Regions from separate parts of the Homo sapiens genome. Here region 2 is linked to region 1. The links come from fine-mapping of genetic effects on gene expression. Tissue or cell type: whole blood. Region 1 holds a variant in brackets; the other region holds the start of a gene. All regions are shown on one strand. Distances are between the middles of the regions.

Region 1 (7,679 bases):
TTTTTATTACAAGACTACTGACCATACGAGGAAAATTCATCATCTGGTAACTACACCTAAAGCACAAGTATTTGGAAAAAAAAAAAGGATAAACAGATTCATTAAATTATATGATTAAATCACTGACCCAATAGAAAATTTATATAATAAAGCCAGAAAAAAAGTTGTAAAATATAGTTTACAATAATTATTCACATTCAAGGCTGTACATCAATACATACAACAACGTGGCCCCGAACATGAATTCAATTCAAATAATTCATATATTAGAATTTAAATAACACAGACTGAACTAGAGGCCAACAATAGCCAGCAAATAACCTTATATAAGAATAAAAATACAAAAGTGTATATCCTAGTATCATTGCATTTGTTTTCATAAGTTCTTTTAATTTTTGCTTTGTCTGTACATCACAGTTACAGCTACAGACCAGGTAGAGAATATTACGCATGTTCTGCTTGCCACCCACCTGAAAGACGTACTAGTCATTTATCCTATTTTATGTTGTGAAGGAACAGCTACAGCAGCTCTAAATACTGTAACAATTTAATTTTGCCAACATCCAACTTACTTACAGTCGTAATAGAGGCTTTTACCAGCACAATGACCCCTATTCGTAGTCATTCTGCCAGGTGGTTAGGCTATGTGGGTTACACAGCTTAAAAAAGGTCTGCCTTTTGTAAAAAGTTCTCTGTACATAGTTTGGTGTTTCTTCATATGGAAGAAATGAGTTACGGGGAAAATTCAGGTACACACGTAGGCTCGTTCAGTTGCTCACCACAGCCATCTCAACAGATGAAAGTGCTCTTTGTTGGAAACAGCTTCCTCCTCACACCAGTTCTCCACAGGCAGCCTCATCTACAACCCTGCAATTTTGGGCCAGAAGTGGTGGCCCCTCAGAGGCTCTGAAGTGCCTCCAGCCCCGATTCAGGCACTTGCCACGTGTGCTGCGTAAGAAGGGACCCCCACCCAGTGAGTCAACATAGGCTCATGTCAAGTTTGAAAATAACTGGGGAAAAGTGTATGACAACATCTTCCAGAACAAAGTACCTTCACCGTATTCTCACAGCAGCTGCGATCTCTGAAGTCTCAGCAGTGACCACCCCGGGTCTGTCAACCAGCCAGGCAAGGGGGGGCCCTCAGGCTTCAGAGGGCAAGAAACCAAATTCCGTGCAATTTGGCCATAATCTCTGGTAGAGTGAAGCAGCACTGAACACGGTGCCTAGAAAAACCTCCTGCACGTTCCCCTGCACAATCAATGGACCCCAACTACAGTGGAGAAATGAAGAATCCAACCAAATTTGGGTGGTCTGGACTTGCTGCCAGCCAGGCAATCTGCAACACTGTGGGCAGGGAGTTGGGGGGGGCGGCCTGAAATCTACACCAGCTGGGACAACCACGCCCTACAATGAAAAAGCCAGCCTGGCTGCTGGGCTCTTGTGAACCACTAAGACCTGAAGGTGGGGCCCCACGGGTGGAAGGGGGAGACAAATGCACTCTTGTAAAACCCAATCAGCTACGTGGTTTTTTTCAAAGAGGCTTTGCTCTGCTACTGATTCCAAATGTCCTAATATACCTTCTGAGTCTATAAACTTAATTACAAATCACTCACTAAGCATGTGGCAAGGTCAGTTCAACACTTGTTATCTCTGCTGACTGTGCAGATGCAAATTCAGTACCATTGTGGACACGAAGTACAAGATTCTGCCAAGCGCTTGAAAGCCACGGCAGCAGGGAGGGCAGAGAGCTGACATGCAGGCAGAGCCAGGTTCTTGCAACCAAAACAAGGAAATTGGCTCTTGGAAAAAATCGGCCACAGATGGATTGCAGTAGTGACATCCTCTTAGCATTTAAATAAAGAGCGGTCTTATTCAGACATTCTTTGGAACACATGGCTTATCAGAAACCGATTTGTTCAGAATCTGTAAGACACAACTAAGGTGGTTCTGCTACTGGAAGTGAGCGTCTACACATCAGGTCGAGAGAGAGACAGAAATATCTTCAAAATGAACAAACTCTTTCACCTCAAAATACCACTTCCAGGCATCTAAGGGGGAAAAAAGTAAGAAATCAGAAGATTTTAAAGATATTCATCACAGCATTATTTAAATAGTGGAAAAATCAGAAACCGTCTTAAGTATTTTACAGTAGGGAAATGGTCAGATAAATTATAGTAAATGGACAATGACTAAATAGTACAATTGTTAAAAACATGTTTCTGAGAAACTCATGACATGGGAAAATGCTTAAAATATCAAGGGAGAAGACGATGCAAACGGTGTGTGTCGGATGTTCCTATTTTAGTTTAAAAAGTGAACAAATGGCAGGGCAGGATATACGGCAAAATGCTCACAGTGGTCTTCTCTGGCCGGTGAGCCTACAGCTGATCTTGTCAGAGACAAACGTTAGTTTTACTGAGTCACCCAGAGCCCTGTGCTGGTGCCTGAGGGTTTGTTCCATGGGACAGTCTCCACAATTCCTCTGGGGAAGGGCCACAAATCCCACAGTGTGTCCCAAGAGGGCTGGAGTAGGCGGAGTCCCCAGCAGCTGTGGCATGACCAGCCATCTCTCTCAAAACAATTGTTAACAAGCCTTCTGCAAGTTAAGGTTCCACATGGTAGCCGTGGTACAGAGGCATTTCTCTAGGGTGGAGAGGCTTGTGCTCTACACCAGGACTGCCCACCGCCCTGGCTGGGGCCACACAAAGAGGGGAGAAAGGAATCCCTCAGAAGCCAGCCCCCAACTGTGTCCCAGAGAAAGGCGGGGCACCTGGGACACCTAGGCCGGCAGCGACCACAGCCTCCCTCCGCTTTGTGCCGAGAAGCCGCACAGTGTGGTCCCGACATTCCACCTGTCCTTGCCCATGTGTGGGGAGGCACATGGCCCCAAGTCTATTAAACAGCAGGTGAAATCTTCCTCATCTTGGATAAACCCACAACTGTAATTCCACGTAAGTGTGTCTATGTGCACACACAGTACCCCACGTTCTACCGTAGAATGTAAGGCGCCTGCGTGCCAGGTGATGGCTCTAAGGATGTGGTAGAGAAAACCGGAGTAGACATGAGCAAGCACAGGGTAAGGAAAGAAAACACACGGGCCTTTCAAAAGGGAAGAGCAAGGGGCTGGGTGAGGAGAAAGGTGACCCACAGAAGGGCTTGGCTGTCAGCTCAGGCAATGGCATCATTTTGGCTGGCGGCTGCCAGCTCTGGCTCTGAGCCCCTAGTTCTGTGGCTTTGGAGGTTAAGATGGAGCTTGTCAGTGACGCCCAGGAGGTGGTGGTTCTATCCAGAGGAAGAACGCACGGAAGAGTCTCCCCAAGCAGCCCAGCCGAGTGCTCCAATTAAAGCCACGTCCCTGCTCCACTTGTTTCCCTATAACCAGACGCCCTGAGAGATCTGAGAGAGCCACTCTCCTACATGGAGACACAGGACGTTCTGAGATGGGTAAAATAGCTGATGAGGAGGAGGAAGCCTGAACAGAAATTCCTGAAAGGGCTAAGAGAGACTCCCCAACACAGCCAAGCCTTTCCAAAAGCCAGGAGGAGGAGAGAGGACTCCGACTCCGGCCACAGGCCCAGGGCAACGTGCTGGGCCCCGGAGCGTCCTGCTCCCTGGGGCCCCAGGGTAGGTGCGGCCCAGCTCACCCCAGCTCACGGTCACAGGCTCACATGCAGCTCTCACACAGCAGCAGCCAAGGCCCAGGCAGGAACCACAGGCAGGGCCTGGGGAACATCTCTGCCCCCTCCCAGGCCCCGTCTGTACTCGCCTAGCTAAAAAGAGCCACTCTCGTCATTAGCAGTGTAAAAACGACACCTTCCCTCTCAGTTTGGATCTGGCCTGGCACACAGGGTCACTGCTGAGTCACCTGTGACTTGGGGGTAGGGACCAGGGAGGGTGGACACAGTTGAGTCAGAGGCAGGTCTGTGGGCAGCAATGTCTGCCTCTCCCCCAAAGGGAGTGAGGGCTGCCCTCCAGGGACAACCTGGGCAGGGAGAGAAGGGCCCAGACCTGCCAGGCCACC[A/G]GGAGCACTCTCTACCTGGGGAGTAGCTAGGCAAAGGACAAATGCATCTGGCCTGTCTGTGCTGCAGAGCGGGGCAAGGCCACCAAAGCATCAAAGGGAAATGGCCCCAAAACCGGCTCTCTCTAGAGGAAAGCCGACCAGCAAGCTGGGGTTGAAGTGTGCTGTTCTCGCCTCCTGTGCAACAGCAACTGGCAAAGCCCACTCTATGGGCCCAGATGAGCCGGCAGCATGAGAAGGCTGTGAGATTTCTGATGCACAGATGTAGAAGCTCTGAGGGGCTCTGAGAAACTTGAACCAAAACACAAAAGGGGCGTGTGTGACGGTGGTGTCTGCACTCCCTGGCGTGGTCTGCAGGAGACAGAAGCACCCTGGGTCTGCTGATGCCAGGGTTCTCTCAGACCCTACTTCAGCAACTGGAGAGGCGTGGACATTTAAACCTTTTAGGAGGCCCTCAGGCCTCTCTGCTCCACACGGAAGTCAGCAGCCCTCTCTGCTCTGGCTGGCTTCTCCAAGGCACCTCCTGGCCCCACCTAGGGCTCGGGGCAGGACTCTCTCGTGCAGTGAGCCAGCGGGGTACTAACTGGGCTCACTTCTGACAGTACCGCTCCCAGCATGCGCTCGGCTTCCAGCCCCAGAGACCAACACTGCTAAGTAGGATAAGGGATCCGGAGCCCTCGATGGCACCCTCCACTCGGCAGCCTGCTCCCGCACCACTCCAACCCCTCCCGCTCCTCACCACGCAAACCTGCCTGCCAACACAGCAGGGGCCACAGAAAGCTGCCACCAGAGCCACCACAGGGATATGTAATGGGCCCAGCCAGGCCTAAGGGCCCATCACAGGGAGACGCAAGAAAGGGAGCAGGTGACAGAAGCACGGCGGCTCCCTCCACAAAGCTGCGGCCCCCGCAGGGCTCCCTCCCTGGTGAAGAGTTCCAGGACCACAGCGGGAGGGGCATAAAGAGCCAAACACACCCGGTCCCCTCGGCCACAGCAGGACCAGCACACAGTTGGGGCAGGGCGGGCGCATGGTTCGGACTGATGCTAGGAAAAACTGGTGACACCAGGTCTGTCCACTAGTCTGGGCGGGACTGGGTTGACGTGCATGGAGCTGGGTCCCCACGGCAACGAGGGCACACGGAGGCCTCCACGGAGCACAGAGAGCAAGCAAAGCGACCCTGAATTCCTTTGTGTTTGTTACTGGTTTTGTTCTTTGTGTGGTTGGGTGTTTTTTTTCTTCTTTTCTTTTAAATAAAAATGCTGCAAGGTTTCCGCCTCTGCGTTCCCCTTGTGATGGCTGGCAGGTGGTCTGGAAGCGTCCCGGATGGCGGCCAAGCCGCGCTGGGGCAGGTGTCCTGGCAGCGAAGGGCAGCCCGGCCGCAGGCCACGTCACTGCACAGCGGCGTCCGGGTGGCTCTGGTATCGCTGCCTCCAAACCTCCTGGATCTTCCTGCACCACTTGTGTGCGTTCCCGCTGGGGTCCATCAGATAATACGTCCTGTTAGGCTGCGAAGACAGAAGCCGTTTAGTGTTCTCCAGGGAGTCCCACCAAAACCCCCACCCCAACCTGGTGAGCTGCCTGCGACCAGCCATTCCGAGTCCTGAAAGCACGTGGGTGTGACGGTTATTCACACAAGCAGTAAGCAACTACACAGGCTGATGACCACCACCCCCAGTCACCACCAAACTGAAAAACAAGCACAGGGTGTCCCCTGCCCCCTCAGGACTGAGCCACTAGTGTGGGCGTCTGGGATGTCGGAAAGGGCGAGGCAGCTGCCCCGATCCCCGCTGCTCCCTCTGGCCAAGGCCTGTGGCTGCTTCCCACGTGGTGCAAAGCCCTCCCATTACCCTGCACACAGAAATCCCTGGGAACAGACTCACCGTGTGGACAAAGAAAGTTTTAAAATTCTTGGCCTCTGGTCGAAGTTCTTGTGACCAAGGAATTTCACCTTTCAGAACTTTGTTGACAGGATCCACATAATATAAATGTGGTCCTTCTGTGAGCAACAGCTGTCGTCGTCTTGCAAATAAACCCTGACGCCAAAACACAAAACAACAGGCCTCAGAGGCCAGTGCTGACGGCATCTCCTGGAGCCTAGAGGGCTGGGCGGCCCCTCGGAGCTGCTCAGGACACAGGGCCACCACCACCACCTGTGCACTCACCCAGGGGCAGGGGACTTCCTGCCCCACCAGGCCCAGTTTCTAAGGTCACAGGGGATGCAGCACAGGCCTCTGCTGCTGAGATGGCGCAGACAGCCCATCCAGATCGGGCCCATGGCTCCCCTGGCCCCTCTGCTCTGCCTGGGACAGAAGCCTGCTCTCGGTAGCCGGCCTCCACCCACCTGCACCGAGATCCTTGCCTGCGGAGGACATACGGCCAGGAACAGAGGCCAGGAGCCTGCGCTTGGAAGTGGCCCCGTGAGCACCTGGAGCTGAATATTTTCTAACCAAGGGTTAAAGCTAACAGTTACTGGTTTGTGTTCTGTCTAATCATACTGAAATTCCTGATCTGACGTTCTACTGTAGAAGTAATATGATTTATATTTGAAAAAGGTACAAGATGACCAAATAAATACCTGAGCACATCCACACACTTGCCTGGCTCCATACAGACCACTTGCTAAGTGCTGGATCCATTTAATCCATAAAATAAAGAACAACCCGGCCGGGCGCCGTGGCTCACGCCTGTAATCCCAGCACTTTGGAAGGCTGAGACGGGTGGATCACGAGGTCAGGAGATCAAGACCATCCTGGCTAACACGGTGAAACCCCGTCTCTACTAAAAATACAAAAAAAGATTAGCCGGGCATGGTGGCGGGCGCCTGTGGTCCCAGCTACTCAGGAGGCTGAGGCAGGAGAATGGTGTGAACCTGGGAGGCGGAGCTTGCAGTGAGCCGAGATCGCGCCACTGCACTCTAGCCTGGGGGACAGAGCAAGACTCCATCTCAAAGAAAAAAATAAAGAACAACCCTTAAATGGTTTTGAAACACTTCTAAAGAAATATTAGACCACTGGCTAAGATATCACATGTGGCCTCTTCAACTTGACGGAAACCTCAAAACAGGCAGCCCCAGGCTCCCAGGAGTGTGGGCGGTTGCTTCTGCACTGCCCTAACCGCCTACGCGTGTGGCTCCACATGGCTTCTCTCAAGGGACTTAAGCCTTCCCGAGCTATGAAATCTAGAGATGATGTCTGATGAAAATCAAGAGATGGAAGGATTCCACGCCACCAAGCTGCCCTCCCCTAAGCTGGAGTCGGGGAAGATGCAGGTGTCCGTGCGGAGCAGCGGGACCACTGACCACTCACCTTCCGCTTATCCACTGGGCCCATCTTTAGTATTAAATTATTTTCTACAAACTGGTGCCTGTGGAAAGAAACAAGAAAGAGATGCTCCCATGACAATCACAAACAGAAATTCTCCACGCTCCTCCTGCCACACGAACTCCCCATAGCCTCGGCCTGCCCCTCACAGAGCCAGCCTCACTTTGGGATGAGCAGAGAACGTTCGCCACATGTAACCCAGCACATACAGCACTGCCACGCAGAGAGCCTTAATCCGTATTTGCAACGGAGCCTGCAGATACCAGACACAGTGCCTGTTGCCCCCTCACTGCCAGTGACATCCACACAGCGGGGAAAAGGTGGGGGAGGACCGTGCTGT
Region 2 (4,000 bases), 79 kb after region 1:
GGCAACACAGTGAGACTTTCTCTACAAAAAATGTTAAAATTGGCTGGGCATGGTGGCACACACCTGTAGTCCTACCTACTCAAGAGGCTGAAGCAAGAGGATCGCTTGAGCAGAGAAGAATGAGGCTGCAATGGGCTATGACCACACCACTCTACTCCAACCTGGGCCACAGAGAGAAACCCTGTCTCTTAAAAATAACAAAAACTGGCCGGGCGCGGTGGCTCACGCCTGTAATCCCAGCACTTTGGGAGGCCAAGGCGGGCGGATCACGAGGTCAGGAGATCGAGACCATCCTGGCTAACACGGTGAAACCCCGTCTCTACGAAAAATACAAAAAATTAGCCGGGCGAGGTGGCGGGCACCTGTAGTCCCAGCTACTTGGGAGGCTGAAGCAGGAGAATGGCGTGAACCCTGGGGGGCGGAGCCTGCAGTGAGCCAAGATTGTGCCACTGCACTCCAGCCTGGGCGACAGAGCGAGACTCCGTCTCAAAAAAAAAAAAAAAAAAAACTAAACAAAAAAAAAAAGCATGTTGGATACAACCTACTCTCAAATAGTTCAGTAAAAAACAGTAGCACAGGTACAGCCAAGAGGAGCCTGAATAGTAGTAACATACAGCAAAAAGTTAACCCTGTAGAACCTAAGTAAAAATTAAAATAAAAAAAGACCAAGGACAACCAAATTTCTTCCGGGCAGGAAAGAAAATGGAAGCGTGGGGCAAGCAGTACAGGAGCAGGGGGAGTCTCTTCTGGAAGGCGTGTTCCACTGAGTCACACATCAGACAGGTTAGGGAGGAAGAGCCTGACCAGGGACTATCGCTGTGCCAATCACAGAATCCCCTGCGGCCTTGGTTAAGGGGATGGTTTCTGAAGCCTGGAGGCAGCCAGAGTGCAGTGCAGGGGGTGGGGACGGCCTATGGCTCAGACGGTGCTGAGCCAGCAGTGTGGAGACAGCTGCGGAGGACAGAGGGTCTAGGGAGGCCAGGCAGAGCGACAACTGATAAAGAAGCACAGGGGCGGGACCCAGGCCCAGATCCGGTCATCAAAGGAGGCCAGACTCAGGACCATGGAATACGTGCTGGGGGTGGGGGGTGGGGCGTGAGTTTGAAAATGAGGGCGCTGGTTGCTCCGGGAGCCCCCTCCACCTCAGCCAGGGAGCCTCACCTCACCTTGTGATAAACCTCCGGTGGGGAAGTGACCAGGGTGGGGCAGAAGGAGGTGACGCCGTGCGACAGGATCCTCCGGGCCACGAGGGCAACCCCCGAACCCACGTCCTCCGTGGCTTGAGAGAAGTCAACACCAAATCCACCTGCAGCCACAGAAAAGGAAGTGTCGCATGGAGCTCAGAGCTCCTCCCCTGGGTTCCCCTGCCGGCCCCGGGCCGCACCGTTGATCTGCACGTCGATGAATCCGGGAGCCAAGATGCGGCCCCCGCAGTCCCGCCGCTCGTCGGCCACGCGCCGCTCCTCAAAGAACAGCTTCTCTGGGTCCAAGATGCGGCCTCCGCGCACCCACAGATCCTCCCTGGGGACGCAGTGGGTGGGCGCTCGCATCGCGGGCCTGACCTCGGCCCCGCACCCTGCACCCCGCCCGGTCCCCGGCCCCGCACCCTGCACCCCGCCCGGTCCCCGGCCCCGCACCCTGCACCCCGCCCTGTCCCCGGCCCCGCACCCTGCACCCCGCCCGGTCCCCGGCCCCGCACCCTGCACCCCGCCCGGTCCCCAGCCCCGCAGTCCCCGGCCCGCGCCCACCTGAGCAGTTTCCCTCCGCGCAGGATCCGGCAGTTAGTGAACTGGAGCACGCGGGCCCCCGCCGCGCCCTGCTCGCCGCGCATCGTGAGCCGTGTCGGGAGCGAGCGGCTCCGGAGCCCCGCGGCGGCCAAATCCCGCGCCCAGTGACGAACCCCAGCCGAGAGCTGAGACCGCGCCCACGTGACCTTCAGCTGACTGAAGCGGCGCGCCACGTGACCGCCGCGCCCACGTGATCGAGCCAGCCCACGTGACCGGCAGCGCCCGGCGCCCGCCCGCCCGCCCGCCCGCCCCCGCCCCCAACAAGCTGAGCAGACACAGGCCCGTCACATCCAAGAACTTTATTGGACACAGCTCCGCGCAGGGCCACGGGCCCGGCGGTGAGGGCGGCTCCATCCAGGAAGTCTCAGCAACAGGAACCCACAAGGCGACACTCTAGCTAAGGTTATAGATAGCTGGGAGACAAGGGCCGCTCCGCAGACGCAGGAACAGGCCAGATCTTTATAAATAAACATCCAGTAAAGAGAAATGACAATTCTAAATCATCCGCATACACAGAGCACTCTAGGGGGTGGGGCGCCGGGGGCCTGGAGGGGCGATGAGTGGGCCCAGATGTCCACGGCACGGGGCGGGCGGGGGCAAGGCCGGGGAAACAGACGATGGGCACTAGGACACTGCGCATGTACAAGACCAACTACTGGGGGCGGCGGCCCCGTGCGTATGTGTCAGGCTGTTCGTTCTGGAATGAGGAGGGGTGGTCTTTACATAATATTCTGTGGCTGGTGGGCTCGGAGAGGGTCTACTTTGTGGAGAGGATGAGGGCGACGATGAGACCGTAGAGGCCGAGCACCTCGGCGAAGATGAGAATCAGGATCATGCCCACGAATAGTCGGGGCTGCTGGGCGGTGCCCCGCACGCCAGCGTCCCCCACGATGCCGATGGCAAAGCCGGCTGCCAGGCCGCTCAGGCCCACGCTCAGGCCGGCGCCCAGCTGGAGGAAGCTCCTGGGGGCGAGAAGAGAGGACTGACATCAGCAGCCTGCCAACCAGGGGGAGACAAGGGTCCGGGTCACCACCCACAGGTGAACCGCCCCCCTCCCTGCAGTCCTCCAGCCCTGGGCAGGGGCCTGACCCCAGTGCTCACTTGTAGAGGCTGATGTCGTCATTCAGGGAGTTGGCGATGAGGACTGCCACCACCAGGCCGTAGATGGCGATGATGCCAGCCATGACCACTGGGATGATGGACTTCATGATCTGCTCCGGCCGCATGACAGACATGGCCGCAATGCCGGTACCGCTCTTGGCTGTGCCATAGGCAGCGCCCAGGGCTGTGGGAGGAAGGCGGGGTGAGCCCACAGCAGTACGCAGGCCAGTTGAGACTAGGACCCCGAGGTGTAGCTTTGGCACAGCTCCAAGGGCCACCCCAAGTTATCACATGCAGAGGGGGAGCCGAAGAAGGCATCCAGCCCAGGGCAAGAGGACCCAGGAGGAACAGCCACGGGCAAGCAAAAGGAGGCCAGGACAGCCACTCCTCCTTCCTCTACGTGAGGCCCCCACCCTCAGAGTCCAGCTCTTCCTCCAGCAGCAGCTCTTGGGGCGGCGTGACCCATCTGGGGCTCCTGGCTCTGCAGTGAACCCACCTGTCACCCCAGGGAGCCTCAGTGCAGCCTCAGCAGCCCCCATGTGGGGTCAGGGTCAGTCGACCCTTGGGGCTACTGCCCAGGACAACATGCTGGAAAAGCCACCAAAGGTCTTGGGGATGGCAAAGCCACTGCTACAGGGTGTGACCGGAGGGTCAGAAGCAGCTGACCTGGCCACTCTTGTCACCCAGGCCAGAGCTCCCTTGACTCACTGCCCAGGCCAAGCTCCCCAACGCTCCCAGCCCCAAATATTAACCTAGGAGGGCCAAACATTCTGCCAGAAAGGGCAGCTCTCAGCACCCTCAGCCACACAGCAGGCCTGAACCCTTGACAGATTGGAGAATCTTCTCTACCAGACAGGAGACAGGGTGAGCCAAGAAGAGGATGGGGGCAGAGAAGACGACGGGGATCATCAACAGTCCAACTACGAGGCCTCAGCTGACCTCCCAGAGAGGTCTCCCCTGCACACGGGGTGGCTCCAAGCACACAGGAGCCTGGCCAGAGGGCCCAAGCCTCCCACCGCAACAGTGCTGGTGGGCTGGGCTCCAGGGTGGCCTGTCTCCTCCAGAGCTGTCCCTCCTTCCTCTCCCAAGAGAATGTTGCCTTTCTTTTCAGT

What was found. PIP is the estimated chance that this variant, and not a neighbour inherited with it, causes the effect.
Region 2: AMDHD2 starts here. The variant in region 1 is fine-mapped to the expression of AMDHD2 in whole blood (TOPMed, PIP above 0.99).

Annotation. Positions count from the first base shown.
Region 1 is chr16:2,595,496-2,603,174 of GRCh38, reverse strand. PDPK1 (3-phosphoinositide dependent protein kinase 1) reads right to left here. Exons shown (of 14, transcript NM_002613.5): 12 at 7,325-7,382; 13 at 5,900-6,052; 14 at 1-5,524. The coding sequence ends at 5,408. Among named protein-coding and RNA genes, the nearest start is that of FLJ42627, 40 kb to the left of the region's middle. The variant A/G (reference allele first, on the strand shown) is at 4,022.
Region 2 is chr16:2,518,290-2,522,289 of GRCh38, reverse strand. AMDHD2 (amidohydrolase domain containing 2) reads right to left here and starts at 1,919. Exons shown (of 11, transcript NM_001330449.2): 1 at 1,749-1,919; 2 at 1,385-1,521; 3 at 1,167-1,306. The coding sequence starts at 1,831. ATP6V0C (ATPase H+ transporting V0 subunit c) reads right to left here. Exons shown (of 3, transcript NM_001694.4): 2 at 2,889-3,072; 3 at 2,072-2,749. The coding sequence ends at 2,545. RefSeq lists silencers at 1,704-1,773, 1,944-2,053.